2 separate regions of the Homo sapiens genome follow, and region 2 is linked to region 1. The links come from fine-mapping of genetic effects on gene expression. A gene starts in region 1. The other region holds a variant in brackets. All regions are shown on one strand. Distances are from middle to middle.

Evidence for each region.
Region 2: its variant is fine-mapped to the expression of NQO2 in whole blood (TOPMed, PIP above 0.99).

Annotation. Positions count from the first base shown.
Region 1 is chr6:2,995,191-3,003,452 of GRCh38, reverse strand. It overlaps NQO2 (N-ribosyldihydronicotinamide:quinone dehydrogenase 2), which reads right to left and starts at 3,559. Exons shown (of 7, transcript NM_000904.6): 1 at 3,368-3,559. NQO2-AS1 (NQO2 antisense RNA 1) reads left to right here and starts at 3,778. Exons shown (of 2, transcript NR_186367.1): 1 at 3,778-4,062. RefSeq lists a silencer at 3,561-3,810.
Region 2 is chr6:3,017,120-3,025,523 of GRCh38, reverse strand. NQO2 (N-ribosyldihydronicotinamide:quinone dehydrogenase 2) reads right to left here. Exons shown (of 7, transcript NM_000904.6): 7 at 5,769-6,045. The coding sequence ends at 5,869. LOC101927759 (a long non-coding RNA gene) reads right to left here and starts at 1,461. Exons shown (of 3, transcript NR_152848.1): 1 at 1,351-1,461. It also overlaps the pseudogene HTATSF1P2. RefSeq lists a silencer at 1-49 and enhancers at 1,088-2,287, 7,494-7,993, 7,994-8,404. The variant T/C (reference allele first, on the strand shown) is at 4,888.

The sequences.
Region 1 (8,262 bases):
TAGAATTCTCAGCAGCGAGCATGTGTCAGGGAGAGACATGGTTGTCTTAGCACTGAGGCTGAAATCCTGGATGTTCTTGGGAGGGCAGTGATTGTGAAGAACAAGTTACTTGTCTAGTTCCTGGGGGTCACTCCTCAAAGCCTCCCGATGAGGCAAGTTTACAGGATCCATGCTCCCTGAGCCAGCAGTGACACCCACACTTGGCAGTGAGAAGTGGGGCTGTAACTTACAGGGTGAGCCAAAATGGCGGGTCTGGAAAGGGATTATCTTAAAGGAAAAAGAGAGGAGAGTGAGTGACTTCATCATTAGCTGGGAGGCTCTACAGTGCCCTGGTGGACAGTCACTGCCTGGAGGTGACTTTGTAGAAAGCAAACTTTGGCTATCACAATGCATAGGGAGGCCTGGCAAAGCCCAGGGAAGCAGAAGGCCCAGCACTTTGAGAGGCTGAGGCAGGAGATCACTTGAGCCTAGGAATTTGAGACCAGCCCGGGCAACATAGTGAGATCCCATCTCTACCAAAGATTTTTAAAAATTAGCCAGGTGTGGTGGTGCATGCCTGTAATCCCAGCTACTCAGGGGGCTGAGATTAGAGGATTGCTCCACTCCAGACTGGGTGACAGAGTTAGGCTCTGTTTCAAGAAAAAAGAGAAAGTAAAAGAAAAAAAAGAAAGCCTGTTTGGCTGAACTGTGGTTCAAAAAAAAAAAGAGTGGATGGTGGTAGATGCAGTCAGGGAGGTGGGAGGGGTCTGACCTGACCCCTCCTAGGGTAGGGGTGAGGATTTTATTCTAAGCCTGACAGAAAGCCCTTGGAGCCTCTTAAGCTGGAGAGTAATATGGAATGATCGCCAGTTGTGGTGGCTCACACCTGTAATCCCAGCATTTTGGGGGGCCGAGGTGGGGGGATCACCTGAGGTCAGGAGTTTGAAACCAGCCTGGTCAATGTGGCAAAACACCATCTCTACTAAAAAATACAAAAATTATCCGGGTATGGTGGCATGTGCCTGTAGTCCCAGCTACTTGGGAGGCTGAGGCAGGAGAATCACTTGAACCTGGGAGGTGGAGGTTGCAGTGAGTCAAGATTGTGCCATTGCACTCCAGCCTGGGCAACAGAGCAAGACTCTGTCTCAAAAAAGAAAAAGAAAATAGAGTGATATGAAATGATTTACCTTTGTAAATGTTGCCAGTGTTTCTGCAGACTGGGGGAACACCTTATCCTGATTCCCAAAGTGATTGCCCGAAATCATGTTGTTTGTATGAAATGCTTCATTTTCACTCCTCTAGACAGGGCATCCATTCTTCAGTGTCCCCAGCTCACCACTCCCTTTTGTATTCCTTGGCCCAGTTTACATGTTTACATCATATGGCTGGTGGCATGTGAGTTTGTGACTTCTGTCTCCATCCCCCTAGCGGTTAAGAATAAGAATCTGAGGTCCAAGAGCTGAGTGACTAACTCAGCTCTATTTGAGTGACTCAGCTCTATTTTCTATACTATTTGAAATAGTGGGGAAAGACTCCAACACAGGCTCTTGACTTGCAGTTGTGTCACTGTTCACTTGACCCCAGGCACTTCCCTTGGCACCCCATCCACAGCAGTGACAGTTCTCTCCCTTTTTAGAAACTATGCACCTACCCAGGCCTACAGGAAAAAAGAGCCATGTGGTTATTAAACTGTATATACCAGGTCAAGTGGGCTCTGATATTTTTGACGTGTACATTATTTAATTTTAAGAAGTTATTTTATAATGTTTTCACTTTTTTTCCTGTGCCTCTTTCCATGTGGACAGTCCCCGTGCTGGGCATTCTAACAGACAACATCTCACAGTGTATTCAGTGTGTATTCATGCGGCAGCTAAACCATTGCCTGCATACCCTTTTGTGCCCATTTTCCTATTTCTGGGACCTTAGGTTATTTCCATTTTTTTCCCAAAACTATAAACAGCACAGCTAGAAGTATATATTATTTAATACTTGTTCCTTTTCATGTATTTCTTTGGCTGTGATCTTCGGAGATTAAAGGTTAAACTGATTTATTTTTTCAGAGATTAAAGGTTAAAGAAGCTGATTTTTGGCCGGGCGCAGTGGTTCATTAATCCCAGCACTCTGGGAGGCCGAGGCAGGCGGATCACCTGAGGTCAGGAGTTTGAGACCAGCCTGACTAATATGGTGAAACTCCATTTCTACTAAAAATACCAAAAATTAGCTGGGTGTAGTGGCACGCACCTGTAATCCCAGCTACTCGGGAGACTGAGGCAGGAGAATAGCTTGAACCCGGGAGGCAGAGGTTGCAGTGAGCTGAGATTGTGCCATTGCACTCCAGCTTGGGCAATAAGAGTGAAACTCCATCTCAAAAAAAAAAAAAAAAGAAAAAGAAAGGAAGAAGAATGAGTTCAAGACCAGCCTGGCCAATATGGTGAAACTCCCACCTGTACTAAAAATACAAAAATTAGCCGGGCATGGTGGCAGGCGCCTGTAATCCCAGCTACTCAAGGGGCTGAGGGGGGAGAATCGCTTGAACCTGGAAGGCAGAGGTTGCAGTGAGCTGAGATTGCCCCACTGCACTCCAGCCTGGGCAACAGAGTGAGACTCTTCTAAAAAAAAAAGAAAAAAGAAAAAGAGGGCCGGGAGCAGTGGCTCACGCCTGCAATCCCAGCACTTTGGGAGGCCCAGGCGGGCGGATCACGAGGTCAGGAGTTTGAGACCAGCCTGACCAACATGAAACCCGTCTCTACTAAACATACAAAAAATTAGCCAGGCGTGGTGGCACGCCCCTATAATCCCAGGTACTCGGGAGGCTGAGGCAGGAGAATTGCTTGAACCCGGGAGGCGGAGGTTGCAGTGAGCCGAAATCGTGCCACTGCACTCCAGCCTGGGCGACAGAGTGAGACTCCGTCTCGGGGAAAAAAAAAAAAGCTGATTTTTTTTTTTCCCAGAGAGATTATAGGTTAGAGAAGCTGATTTTTCATTTTTTCCACAGTGCCACAATGTCCTTGACAAAGGCAGCGCAAACCAGTGGTTCAGCCGCGCCTTCAGGGCAGCGCTGGGCAGCGCACGGGCCTAAACCCCGGTACCCCCTTTACAGACTGACCTTGGGCCCGCTGATTCCTACTTGTAATATGACTATGATACCAGCACCCGCTCCATAGGGTTGAGGGCAGATTCCACCAGACGATTCGACACCGGGACCCTGCGTGTGGGCGCGTTCCGTGAGAGCCAAGCACGATCCTATGTACAGAATGGTCCCTGGCCCGGGCGCGACGACCCACAGGGCCATATGGCCGGCCAGCTGAAATCCCTGAGAGCGTTCTGGCCGTCCAGTCCGGGAACTGTCCTTCCCAAGTCCCCCGGTCCCCGACAGGGGATCACTCACCTTCCGACCAGCGCACTCCCCAGTAGGAGCCGCAGGACTGGGACCCGCGTCTCCCCAAGGACCGCTCTAGGAGTTGCGCCAGGTTCCGGCCGCACTGGACCGCGCACTCGCTGACGCCTGGAGGGCGGGAGCGCTGCGACTGCGCCCCCGGGGACCACGGACCGGTGCCAACCTAAGCAGCCCGGAACCTGCCCCGCGCCGCGGGACTGCAGGCCTCTTTACGCAGCGCGCCTACCACGCCGAGGCCCCGCCCACTCACCCGCCCCGCCCGTGAGCCCCGCCCACACCCCGCCCCGCCCCCGAGCCCCGCCCACTCCCCGCCCCGGCGGTGCGGTGCCTCGCTCCGCGCCCGTCCGCGCCCAGGCCCCGCCTCCACAGCGGCGTCCCGCCCCACCCACACCTCGCCTCGGCCCCTAAGCTCCGCCCACTCCCCGCCCCTGAGGTCCATCTGGGGCCTCGCCCGGCGATCTGGGACTGGGGAGGACCCTGCTGACTTCCAGGCAGGTGGAAACTGGATTGATAGAAATCCAGCGCGGGGAGGCTGTGCTGAGAGGAGGGACGCCCCTGCCCTGCGCCTCCCGCTCCCCATCTCTGGCTGGTATCCCGGTTACAGAATGAGGGTCCGTGGTGCAACAGAAAGAATGAGCCACTGATACACTCATCAGCTTGCTCGGATCTCCCGGGGAGTTACGCTGGTGAGAGAAACCAGTCCCAAAGGTCACTCACCGACGGCGCCGCTGGTGTACTGGTATTATGCAAGATGCCCTCGCAAAGGTCACGCACGGATGGTTCATTTATCCAAAGACCAAAGGAGAGAAATGCAGGACTCATTAGCAGTGCCCAGGAGATAGGGGGGCGGGTGGGTGTGGCTATAAAAACGCAACCCGGGGGGTGCCTGTGAAGGAAATCTGCGTCCCGCGGAACGCAACACGCTGTTGGGATACTGGATTGTCCTTTGTGAGATGCCACTATCGGGGGAAACCGGATGGCTTCACAGAAAAAGTTCGTTTAAAGGAAAATGGTTTAAGGCCAAGGAAATACCTAGAAAACGGAAAGTCTTGAAACCAGAGCCGGTGGGGAGTTATGGGGGGCGGTGCTGGTGAACAGTTTGGGCCGACTTTTTCCAGCGCTTGCTGGCTTCTGCCACCTCATTTGGCAGTCACCTGCCACTGTGACCTCCCCAAGTCCCTTCTCCAAACTCAATTCCTTGATTTCTGGTGTCCCGGGATGGCCCCACTCCAACAATAGAGCAGAAGGAAGGAAGGTTTCCCCTGTGTTTAGAACGTTCCTAACGAAAATAACTGCAACTCTTGATTGTACCTCCTGAGGGTCGTTGGGACTTTCCCTCTCAGACATTTATTGGTTCATTCATTCGTTCATTTTGCTGTAACTCACAGTGGCCCTCCCCATCCTAAGGTGCACTGCTGGGATTGGTCTATGTGCTGATGATGTTCTCCTTGTCTTCAGAGGTGAGAATGTGCCCTCCCTCCGAGATGCCCTCTTGCCCCTGAGCTCCCCAGCAGGGAATAGGCTGCCTTGTCTTGTGAGTCCAGATCCTGGGAACAACTTTCATTTAGGAATGGAACAGCAGGTCCTGGGAGCATTGGCGCCTGCGCGCCCATCATGCGCGTGTGTGATGCAACATCACCACCTTGTGGCAGCGAGGAGCTATCACAACGTGGACTGAGCAAGTTGCTCCCTGCTTGGGGTTGGGAGCTGGACTGGCCTAGTTCCCTGGGTCTTTTGTAACCTGAATGGTGGTAGATTCCAGGACAGTTCAGTAGGAGCCCATCCTCAAAAGGAAAATAACAGAACTTCCTGCTAATCTGGTATTGGGGCTGAGCAATTACTGCACACTAATGAGATTGACCATAATTGCATCCTGAGTTTGAGGAGGAGGTCATGCTACTAAAATGAGATAAAATCAGCTCCAACGACAAACATCATCTCTGGGGGTTTCCAGATTCTCACTTTTCATTTAATCCCCAGCCTTAGTGGAAAGCAAGAGTCGGAGTCGGCATTCTGGGCAGGGAGGCAGGTGAGGCAGGTACACATCTCCTCTTCTCCCCAACGCCCCATGTTTCTATTTCTGAATAAAATGAACCATCATGGTGCTAAGGTAAAGCTAAACTAGCTGAGCCACCTCCTGAAGAGGTCATTGCTTTTGTTTTTATTTAATGAGATTTCTTTCCCTTCTGCTACCAGCATCCCTATTCCTTTGGAAAACTGCTTCTTCATAATAACATAAAGGTTTTGGATTTTTTGTTTTGTTTTTTGGGTAGCAAAATCTGTATAACATGAAATTTTCTATTTTCACCATTTTAAGTGTACAATTCAGTGGCATAAATTACCTTTAGAGTGCTGTGCAACCATTACAACTATTTATTTTCAAAACGTTTTCATCATCCCAAATAGAAACACTTGGGTCAGGGGCCATAGATCACGCCTGTAATCCCAGCACTTTGGGAGGCAGAGGCATGCAGATCACCTGAGGTCAAAAGTTTGAGACCAGCCTGGCCAACATGGCGAAACCCCATCTCTACAAAAATTTGCCAGGTGGTGTACACCTGTAATCCCAGCTACTCAGAGGCTGAGGCAGGAGAATTGCTTGAACCCAGGAGGCGGAGGCTGCAGTGAGCTGAGATCGTGGCACTGCACTCCAGCCTGGATGACAGAGCGAGACCCTGTCTCAAACAAAAACAAAAACAAATAGAAACACTGCACTCATTGGATAATAAATCCCCATTCTCCCCTCCTTCCACTCCTGGTAGCCTCTAATCTACTTTCTGTCTCCATGAATTTGTCTATTGCATGTATTTCATATAAGTGGAATCCTACAAGATGTGGCCTTTTCACTAAGCTTTTTTTCCTCAAAAACCTTGTTGCTGAGTTTCATCCATGTTGTAGTATGCATCAGAACTTCATTCCTTTTTATGGCCGAATAATAGAAAAATGTGTATACCGCCTGGCCAACGTGGGGAAACCCCATCTCTACTAAAAACACAAAAATTAGCTGGGCATGGTGGTGTGCACCTGTAGTCCCAGCTACTCGGGAGGCTGAGGCAGGAGAATCACTTGAACCCAGGAGGCAGAGGTGGCGGTGAGCTGAGATTGTGTCATTGCACTCAAGCCTGGGCAACAAGAGCAAGACTGACAGAAAGAAAAGAAAGAAGAAAGAGAGAAAGAAAAAGAAAGGAAGGAAGGAAGGAAGGAAGGAAGGAAGGAAGGAAGGAAGGAAGGAAGGAAGGAAGGAAGGGTACCAGGCATTGTTTATCCACTCATCTGTTGTTTGACTATTGTGAATAATATTGCAATGATTATTGGTGTACAAGTATCTGTTTCAGTCCCTGTGTTCAATAATTTTGGTTATACACCTTGGAGTGGAATTGTCGGTATTACAATTCTATGGTCATTCTATGTTTAGCTTTCTGAGGAACAGCCAAACTGTTTTCCACAGCGTCTACACCATTTCACATTTTCACCAACAATGTACACAGGTTCCAACTTCTCTACATTCTCACGCACATTTGTTATGTTTCTTTTTTTTCCCTCTAAATTATAGCCATCCTAGCAAGTGCGAAGTGGTATCTCATTGTGGTTTTGATTTGCATTTCCCTAAGGACTAATGACTTTGAGCATCTTTTCATGTGCTTACTGGCCATTTGTATACCTTCCTTGGAGAAATGTCTATTCAAGTCCTTTGTTGACCATTTAATTGGGTTGTTTGTCTATTTGTTGTTGAGTTGTAGGTTTTTTGTTTGTTTTTTGAGACGGAGTTTTGCTCTTGTTGCCCAGGCTGGAGTGCAATGGCGAGATCTCGGCTCACCGCAACCTCCGCCTCCTGGGTTCAAGTGATTCTTATGCCTCAGCCTCCCGAGTAGCTGGGATTACGGGAATACGCCACCACGCCTGGCTAATTTTATATTTTTAGTAGAGACAGGGTTTCTCCATGTTGGTCAGCCTGGTCTCAAACTCCCGACCTTAGGTGATCCGCCCACGTCGGCCTCCCAAAGTGCTGGGATTACAGGCGTGAGCCACCGCACCCGGCCGAGTTGTAGGTGTTCTTTACATATTCTGGATGTTATCAGACATAGGATTTACAAATATTTTCTCCCATTCTGTAGGTTGTCTTTCACTTTCTTGAAAATGTCCTTTGATATAAAAGTTTCACATTTTTTATGAACTCCAATTTACCTATTTTTTGTTGTTTCTTCCTGGGCTTTTAGTGTCTTATCTAAGAACCCAAAACACAAGATCATGAAGATTTACTCTTACGTTTTCCTCTATATGGCTTTAGTTCTTATATTTAGGTTGTGAATTATTTTTCACATATGGTGTGAAGTGGAGCCCAACTTTAGTCTTGCATGTGGAAATCCATTTCTCTCACAGCATATATTAAAGAAACTATTATTTCATCATTGAATGGACTTGGCACTCTTGTCAAAAATTCACTGGCCACAGATGTATGGATTTATTGAGGATCCCTTGTACATCTCTTGCAGCTTTTAAGATTCTCCCTTAGTCTTATACAGGCATATCTGCCTTATTCTGCTTCTCTTTATAGTACTTCCACAGATGTTGCATTTTTTTTTTTTTTACAAATTGAAGGTCTGTGGCAATCCTGTGTCAAGGAAGTCTATGTTTATGTGATCAATATTATTATCAATTATTGTATTGTGATTCCTCAGAAAGGTTACATAATCTATTGACACCTCTAGCATGGGATAGTGACACATATAACAGATACTGACACTCTGTCCATCACTGAACTGTGTGTGGATTGATCAAAGCAATCTTTGAGTGAGTCTAGTTTCCCCTCTGGTAGGACCTACTTAGACGGAGATAAAATATTTTCTCACCGCTTACATTAATCTAGATTTAGATATAGTTGTCCT
Region 2 (8,404 bases), 22 kb before region 1:
ATGTCTTTTTTTTTTTTTTTTTTTGAGATGGAGTCTCGCTCTGTGGCCAGGCTGGAGTGCAATGGCACGATCTCACCTCACTGCAACCTCCACCTCCCGGGTTCAAGTGATTCTCCTGCCTCAGCCTCCCAAGTAGCTGGGACTATAGGCATATGCCACCACACCCGGCCAATTTTTGTATTTTTTAGTAGAGACGGGGTTTCACCATGTTGGCCAGGCTGGTCGTGAACTCCTGACCTCAGGTGATCCTCCCACCTCGGCCTCCTTTTAAAGTGCTAGGATTACAGGATGGAATAACACTTTCCTTTAAGGGCCAACGAAATCACTTGAGCATGCATCCATCAGAGGGAGGGCGGCTTAGGAGAGGTTCCCACACGGTGCCCACTGCTGAACTGTTCATTAGCTAGCTTTTTCCTGCATCCCCATCTTATCGCCATTTTCTGGGGCTCGGTTTTTCCGTCTTGAGAAAGAAATAGGCCTGTGCTTATTTCCCTCTCCCCTGGGACAAGGCACCAGCCACTCTCCTGAGCTGCTGGGAACTTCTCCAAAATTCCTGGTGCTTCCTCACATTGAGCAACATGAGTCTCTTTCCTCTTTTTACCAGGCTCCACCCACGAGAGGCTCTGAGACAAACTACACAACCAAAGAAGTCTTTCTGCATCCACAAAGCCCTGTTTGCCTAAGAAAAAGGTCGCGGGGCCCAATCACACACACCTGGCTGCAGTCATTTCCAATTTTCTTTTTTTTTTTTTAATGGCAATTCCTGCTGCCCTGCTGATACTGAATTTATTTTTTATTTTAAGTTTTTCAGCAATAAGATCTTAAAAACCGGCCGGGCGCGGTGGCTCATGCCTGTAATCCCAGCACTTTGGGAAGCCAAGGCAGGCAGATCACCTGAGGTCGGGTGAGTTCAGCCTGACCAACATGGAGAAACCCTGTCTCTACTAAAAATACAAAATTAGCCGGGCATGGTGGCGCATGCCTGTAATTCCAGCTACTCGGGAGGCTGAGGCAGGAGAATCGCTTGAACCAGGGAGGTGGAAGTCGAGGTGAGCCGAGATCGCGCCATTGCACTCCAGCCTGGGCAACAAGAGTGAAACTCCGTCTCAAAAAAAAATTCTTAAAAACCGGCAGAAAATGTATCAGGGTGCCCGGTACTAACAGGAGATGAGACATAGGCAAGAGCCCAGCCCTCGAATTGCTAACAGTTTTGCTTGGGAACCGGAATTAATGTCTTCAGCATACTCAGGCCAAGGTGACAGCACCGGCTCTCAGAGAGGTTGGATTTCAGCAACTTCCCATCCTCTCAACCCACACAGGAACAGGCCCCTCGGCAGTTCGAGAACGCACCTTCCCATACTTCAGAGTTGCCGGAGGGAGGGTGGAGGACCTCCTGCCTCACAGTGATCTGAGGTCCAGAAACCCTAGGGACCCCAGCTTGAGGCTCTGAAGGGCTGTGACACAGCCTCTTTGCCTGCCAGCCCCGCCCCGGATGCAGCCTGCTGAGCGAGGGTGGAGGAGGGGAGCTATGTGGCCAAAACCCTGAGTCACTGAGGAGCACGAGGGAGCCGCCCTTTCCGGCGTGTCTCCCGAGGCTGTCTGCCCTTCCCCAGCCTCTGCAGCCTACAATCCCAATCAAGAGCCAGCCCGGTTTCTGCAAGCACACAGGAGCAGAAGAGAAACCAGTGAAGACTTCACCGCTGCATATCAGGCCAGCGACGGCTGCTCGGTGACGGCGCTGCTCTGCCACCAAGAAAAACCCCAAACCCACTGATCCCACAAAGAGGGGAGAAAAAGGAAGGCTTCATGCTGAAGAAGGAGAAATACAAACGTGTATGTGCCGGTTTGCCTCTGGTCGTTACCGTGGAGGCATTCACACGCCTGTCCATTTGGCATTATTATGAGCGATCCCCAGACAGAAGAACTTAAGGTCAAGTTTTACAGAGATAACCAAGGACATCTTAAAGGAGACAGGCTGTGCGATCATTGGAAGAGGGAAGCTGTGGATCTTGCATTCATGCATTTGGATGAAGATGACACTGGAAACTGCACGTTGCAGGTTGAGGTGGCCAAGTATCAACGGAATGGGAAATATGAGGCTTCAGGAAGGAAGTGCGCGAACCACAGGAAGGCTCCGTCTCTACGGCAGAAGCGGCCACGCCGCAGCCCATCCAAACGCCGCGACACGAGTGAGTTGTCCTCATCGAACACATTTCATCCTGTGGATTTTGAGGATGGCCAGAGAAGACCTTCAAGGAGAGTCAAGTTTGGACCAACTCGGAGGCTCATTGTCTTTGACAGACACCCAGCTGGTGAACCTGTGTCCTGGAGGAATGCAGGAGCAGCTGCTCATTGTATTCAAACCTTTGATGGAAGGTGGTTTGAATGATAATGGTTGAACAGACTCCAAGGCTGAGAGGACGGGCGGGCGGCTTCCTTCAGTGTCCCTGAGGCCAACACACTCAGTGCTCCGATTCCACAGAGGGGGACTTTGGGTGGTGCTGGGGGCGTTGAGGAAGAAGGGCCCCTGGGCACAGCCAGCAGTGCTGTCCTCAGTAGTGATGACAAGGAGGAGGAGGAAAAGGGAAAAGAGGAGGATATGATGACAAAGATGATATTTAATCCCTCAAACTTGCTTTTAGGGAAGTTCCTCCATCTGCATGTGGCTGTGTGTCAGGGTGATTATTAGTAGGGTTACGTGAACACGGCACAGTGGTACAATGCCATCAGACTAAATTTTTTAAAAGTTTTAAATTTTCATTGTAACTGGCAATTAATGATTTTTAAATTATTTTTATTTATTTATTTGTTTTTTGAGACAGGTCTCATTCCGTCACCCAAGGCTGGAGTGCAGTGGTGTGATCTCAGCTCACTGCAACCTCTGCCTCCCAGCTCGAGCGATTCTCTCACCTCAGCCTCCCAAGTACCTGGGACTGCAGATGTGTGCCACCACACCTGGCTAATTTTTTTTTTTTTTTATAGGGTTGGGGTTTCGCCATGTTGCCCAGGCTGGCCTCAAACTGCTGAACTCAAGCAATCTGCCCATCTTAGCCTCCAAAAATGCTGGGATTCCAGGTGAGAGCCATCACGCCTGGCTATTTTTAAAAAGAGTCTTGCTCTGTCATCCAGGCTGGAGTGCAGTGACACAGTCATGGCTCATTGCAGCCTTGAACTCCTGGACTCACGTGACCCTCTTGCTTCAGCCTCCTGAGTAGCTGGAATTACAGGTGCGTGCCACCATGCCTAACTAATGTATATTTTTAAATTTTTTGTAGAGATGGGTCTCATTATGTTGCCCAAGCTGGTCTTGAACTCCTGGCCTCAAGCAGTTATCCCATCTCAGCCTCCCAAATTGCTGGGATTACAGGCATGACCCACAGTGCCCAGCCATTAATTTTTTTTTTTTTTTTTTGACGGAGTCTCGCTCTGTCACCCAGGCTGGAGTGCAGTGGCACAATCTCGGCTCACTGCAAGCTCTGCTTCCCAGCTTCACGCCATTCTCCTGCCTCAGCCTCCCGGGTAGCTGGGACTACAGGCGCCCGCCACCAGACCCGGCTAAATATTTGTATTTTTAGTAGAGACAGGGCTTCACTGTGTTAGCCAGGGTGGTCTCGATCCGCCACCTCAGCCTCCCAGAGTGCTGGGATTACAGGCGTGAGCCACCGCACCCGGCCTCAGACAACATGACTTTATTACTGGAAACCAACTAAGAAAAAATTATGATTAGGAGGAGAAAACAGCAAACGGTCGGGGTCAAAAACCAATATTCAGCAATCAATAGCTTTTACCAATCAAAAGAACTTTTAGAAGATATAATTGAAGACAAAATCCTATTTATAATAGCAAACAACAGCAAAAGCAAGGAATGAACTTAGTCAATGTGCACTGCCTGTAGGAGATGACCTCGTGATCGGCATGCCCGCCTTGGCCTCCCAAAGTGCTGGGATTACAGGAGTGAGCCACTGTGCCCAAAAAAATAAATTTTGTAATGTTTCACTTAACAAAAGAGATACATTCTGAGAAATGTATCATTAAGTGATTTCATAATTAGTTGATTTCATTGTCACGCAAACATCATAGAATGCACTTACACAAACCTAGATGGTACAGCCTACTACACACCCAGGCTTTATGGTAGAGCCTATTGCCCTTGGCTATAAACCTGTAGAGATGTTACTGTACTGAATACTGTAGGCAACTGTAACACAATAATAGGTATCTCTGTATCTAAACATGGAAAAGGTACAGTAAAATTACTGTATTAGTCCAGGTGCAGGCAGCTCATGCCTGTAATCTCAGCACTTGGGGAAGCTGAGGTGGGTGGACTGCTTGAGACCAGGAGTTCAAGACCAGCTTGGGCAACATAATGAGATCCTGTCTCTACCAAAAATTAAAATAATTAGCCAGGCGTGGTAGCATGTGCCTGTAGTCCTAGTTACTAGGGATGCTGAGGCAGGAGGATCACTTGAGCCTAGTGAGGTATGATCATGCCACTGCACCCAGCTGGGGCAACAGAGTGAGACCTCATCTATAAAAATAATAAAATAAATCTTAAATAAATTTTAATAAACAAAACATGGCATTATAATCTTAGGGGACCACCATCGTACATGCAGTCCATCACTGATTGAAACATCATGCAACATATAACCATATATGTTAATGGCTGTTCAATTAAAACTTCATAGTCCTAATGTAAATTTAAAAAGACAAAGAAGAAAATTAAGCAACAGGCCCAGATTCAACTTTTCTATGAAAAATAGAAACTGTCATGTTGAGTCATAAAATAAAAAAACTAGCAAATCCAGCTCTATGCTCAGAGAATTACCAGAAAATAAAATTACATGAAGCTTGAATATAGGGAGATGGAAAGATATTAGACAAATA[T/C]TAAAGAAAATCTGGGCCAGGTGTGGTGGCTCACACCTGCAATCCCAGCACTTTGGGAGGCCCAAGGTGGGAAGATTACTTGAGGCAAGGGGTTTGAGACCAGCCCGGGCAACATAGTGAAACTCTGTCTCTTTAAAAAAGAAAGAAAAGAAAAGAAAGAAAGAAAAGAAAATCTCAGTGAGTGATGGTCAGAATAGAATTCAACATAACAAGCTCATTATTAAAATATTTGATCTCACTGTGTACAATTCTGAAGACACTCATTCATGTACTTCATTAAATATTTCTAGTTTGCTAAAAATAGAATTACCCTTCAACCCAGCAATCCCATTACTGGGTATCTACCAAAAGGAAAAAAAAAATCATTCTATGAAAAGATGCCTGCACTTGTATGTTCATCACAGAACTATTTACAGTAGCAAAGACATGGAATCAACCCAGGTGCCCATCAACAGTGGACTGGATAAAGAAAGTGTGGTACACGGACGCCATGGAATACTATGCAGCCATAAAAAAACATGAAATCCTGTCCTTTGCAGTAACGTGGATGCAGCTGGAGGTCATTATCCTAAGTGAATCAACACAGAAACAAAACCAAATTCCCCATGTTCTAACTTATAAGTGGGAACTAAACATTGGGTACACAGGGGTGAAAAGACGGGATCAATAGATGCTGGGAATCCAAAAGCGGGAAGGAAGGGAGGAAAGGAAGTGTTGAAAAACTATCTATTGGGAACTATGCTCACTGTTTGGGTGATGGGATCAATAGAAGCCCAAACCCCAGCGCCACCCAATATTCCCCTGAAACAGTACTGGCCATGTGCTCCTTAAAGCTAAAATTAAAAACAAACAAAAAACAGAAAGAAAAAAGTATCCCCAGGTAGCTATGTTGTAATTTTATTTCATGACAGCACCATCTTCTCTTTGCCTGCGCCTGGGCCTCCTAGTGTGCTGCTTACGTGATGCCCACGTGCCACAGAGTTATTGCCCGAAGTGCCAGTGGGCTGTGCAGGGGATGGGCTCTTCCTTCCAGATGGTCTGCAGCCTCTGGGACCACGCAGCCACCATCCCCTTTCTTTCTTCTTCGGATGCAATTTCAGGAGCAAAGCTGATCTGAGGGGCAAGGACTTTAAATCCACAGAAGTGTAATGTGCCATGCTAAAGCCACAGGGGAAGAAAAGAACTCATTAGAAACTACACCTGTTACATACCATTCAGTTAAATGATTTAAGGGGGGAAATGGTGTGAAACAAACCTTCAAAAAATCATGAAACAACCTTAATGTTACAGGCAACTGAAAGCTAAACTTCCCTATGGCTTTAGGACACAGCCTTGCATAAGAGCCGTGAAGAACTTGGGGCAGTTGCAATTTCCAAGCTCTATTTTTATAACTGCAATTAACCTACAATCTTTGCAACTGATTCAGATGCCAAACATTATAGTTCTGCTTGATTGGGCAAATTATGGTACATTCACACTATAGATTATTCCAGAATGAGGTTATTCTAGCTATAATATATACCATGGAAGTTTGTTCAAGATATCTGTTAAATGAAAATAACAAACAAATTTTAAGCCGTATTTATGATATACCATTCATGTAAAAGAGCAGTAAATGTAATAAACCTATAATAAAAATTATGTATGTGAGAAAATATATAGGCCCTAAGAAAATAAATCAAACCATTTAAAGTGATTCTTTCTGAGGTGGGAGGGATTAAAGGGATTTTCTCTTTTTATATTTCATATTGTCTCTTTTTTTTTTGGCCATAATATGTACTTCTGCAAACTGAAAAAAAAAAAGATTTTTTTAAAAGCAAGAAGAATTTGAACTTGGCTAATGACACATAAGAGACCAGTTGGCCTGTGAAGAAGCAAGGTCAGGTTTATAAATTATCATTTCCTTCAGTAGACTATCAGTAACTGGAATCACGTACTTTTTCCTTTCAAAGAGGACCACTTTTTTTCTAAAAATGTCACACTCAATCCTCTGCATTACTTCCTTTAAAACCCACACCCTCATCCAGGCCTGCCCTGTCAGGTGGGGAGTGAGAGGCCCACACACCACTATCCACATTTTTTTCCTCAGGCAACATCATTTTATTTATTTGTTTGTTTGTTTGCTTGTTTTTGAGGTGGATTCTCATTCTGTTGCCCAGGCTGGAGTGCAGTGGTGCAATCCTGGCTCACTGCAACCTCCGTCTCTCAGGTTCAAGCGATTCTGCTGCCTCAGCCTCCCAAGTAGCTGGGACTACAGGTGTCCGCCACCACACTCGGCTAATTTTTGTGTTTTAGTAGAGATGGGGTTTCGCCATGTTGGCCAGGCTGGTCTCAAACTCCTGACCTCAGGTGATCCACTGCCTCAGCCTCCCAGAGTGCTGGAATTACAGGCGTGAGCCACCGCACCCAGCTTCAGACAACATGACTTTATTACTGGAAACCAACTAAGAAAAAATTATGATTAGGAGGAGAAAACAGCAAATGGTCGGGGTCAAAAACCAATATTCAGCAATCAATAGCTTTCACCAATCAAAAGAACTTTTAGAAGATATAATTGAAGACAAAATCCTATTTATAATAGCAAACAACAACAAAAGCAAGGAATGAACTTAGTCAATGTGCACTGCCTGTAGAAGGAAAAATCATTGTGTTTTGAAAGGACATAATAGGATTAATTTCTCTGATATATGAAGAGCACTGACAAATAGAAAATTAAAAAATACCAAACCAATAGGACATGGGCAAGGCACGTGCACCTAGAGAGAGTTCACAGAAAAGGGGTGACGCGTGCATTTTCCCAGCAAACTCCCTACCCCTCAAGAACGAGCTCTCCCCCTGTCTCGACAAACCTCCCTTAAACAACCTGGAAGAACAGTTGACCCCTAGGTTTCTGGGTTCCCTGGAGCCCCTGACCTGGAGTCTGCTCCCCACTCCCTCCCTCTGCCACCCCTCACCAGGGGTTCCTTCGTGGGACACCCCAGCACGTTGGAACTGCTCTGCCCACCACCTTCCCTTTGGCAGGTGGCCACTACTCGGCCACATTTCAGGCCCAGGGACACTCACGCAGGCACCAAGAGGTCCCCTGGGGAAGCAGGCCTGGGAGGGGCCTGCGGACTGGGAGGTGGGTGTGTGCTGGCTCCATAGGCCCCTTGCCCCTGTGGGGGTTGGCATGGCCAGCAGAGACCAGCATGCGGCCATCAGAATGCAGGGCCTGGGGTGCCACTTGCCAGGGTCCAAGGGCAGTGCTGCCCTCACCAAGCACTGCCAGAGCCATATGGATGGCCTCCACCCGCACGTATCACAACACACGCAGGGCCACCTTGGGGCCATTCTGCTGACCAAGCTAAGCAGGTTTGGCTTAGCTTCTGCCCAAACCATATCAAAAGCTATAATTAGGGCATGTTTTCCCTATTGGTCAAGCTTTTCAAATCTGTCAAGTAAAGCATTTAAAAGGGGCAAAATGTTATAATTTTCTTGTATCCAGGGGAGTCAAAATGGTGTGGGGCATCACGCTTCC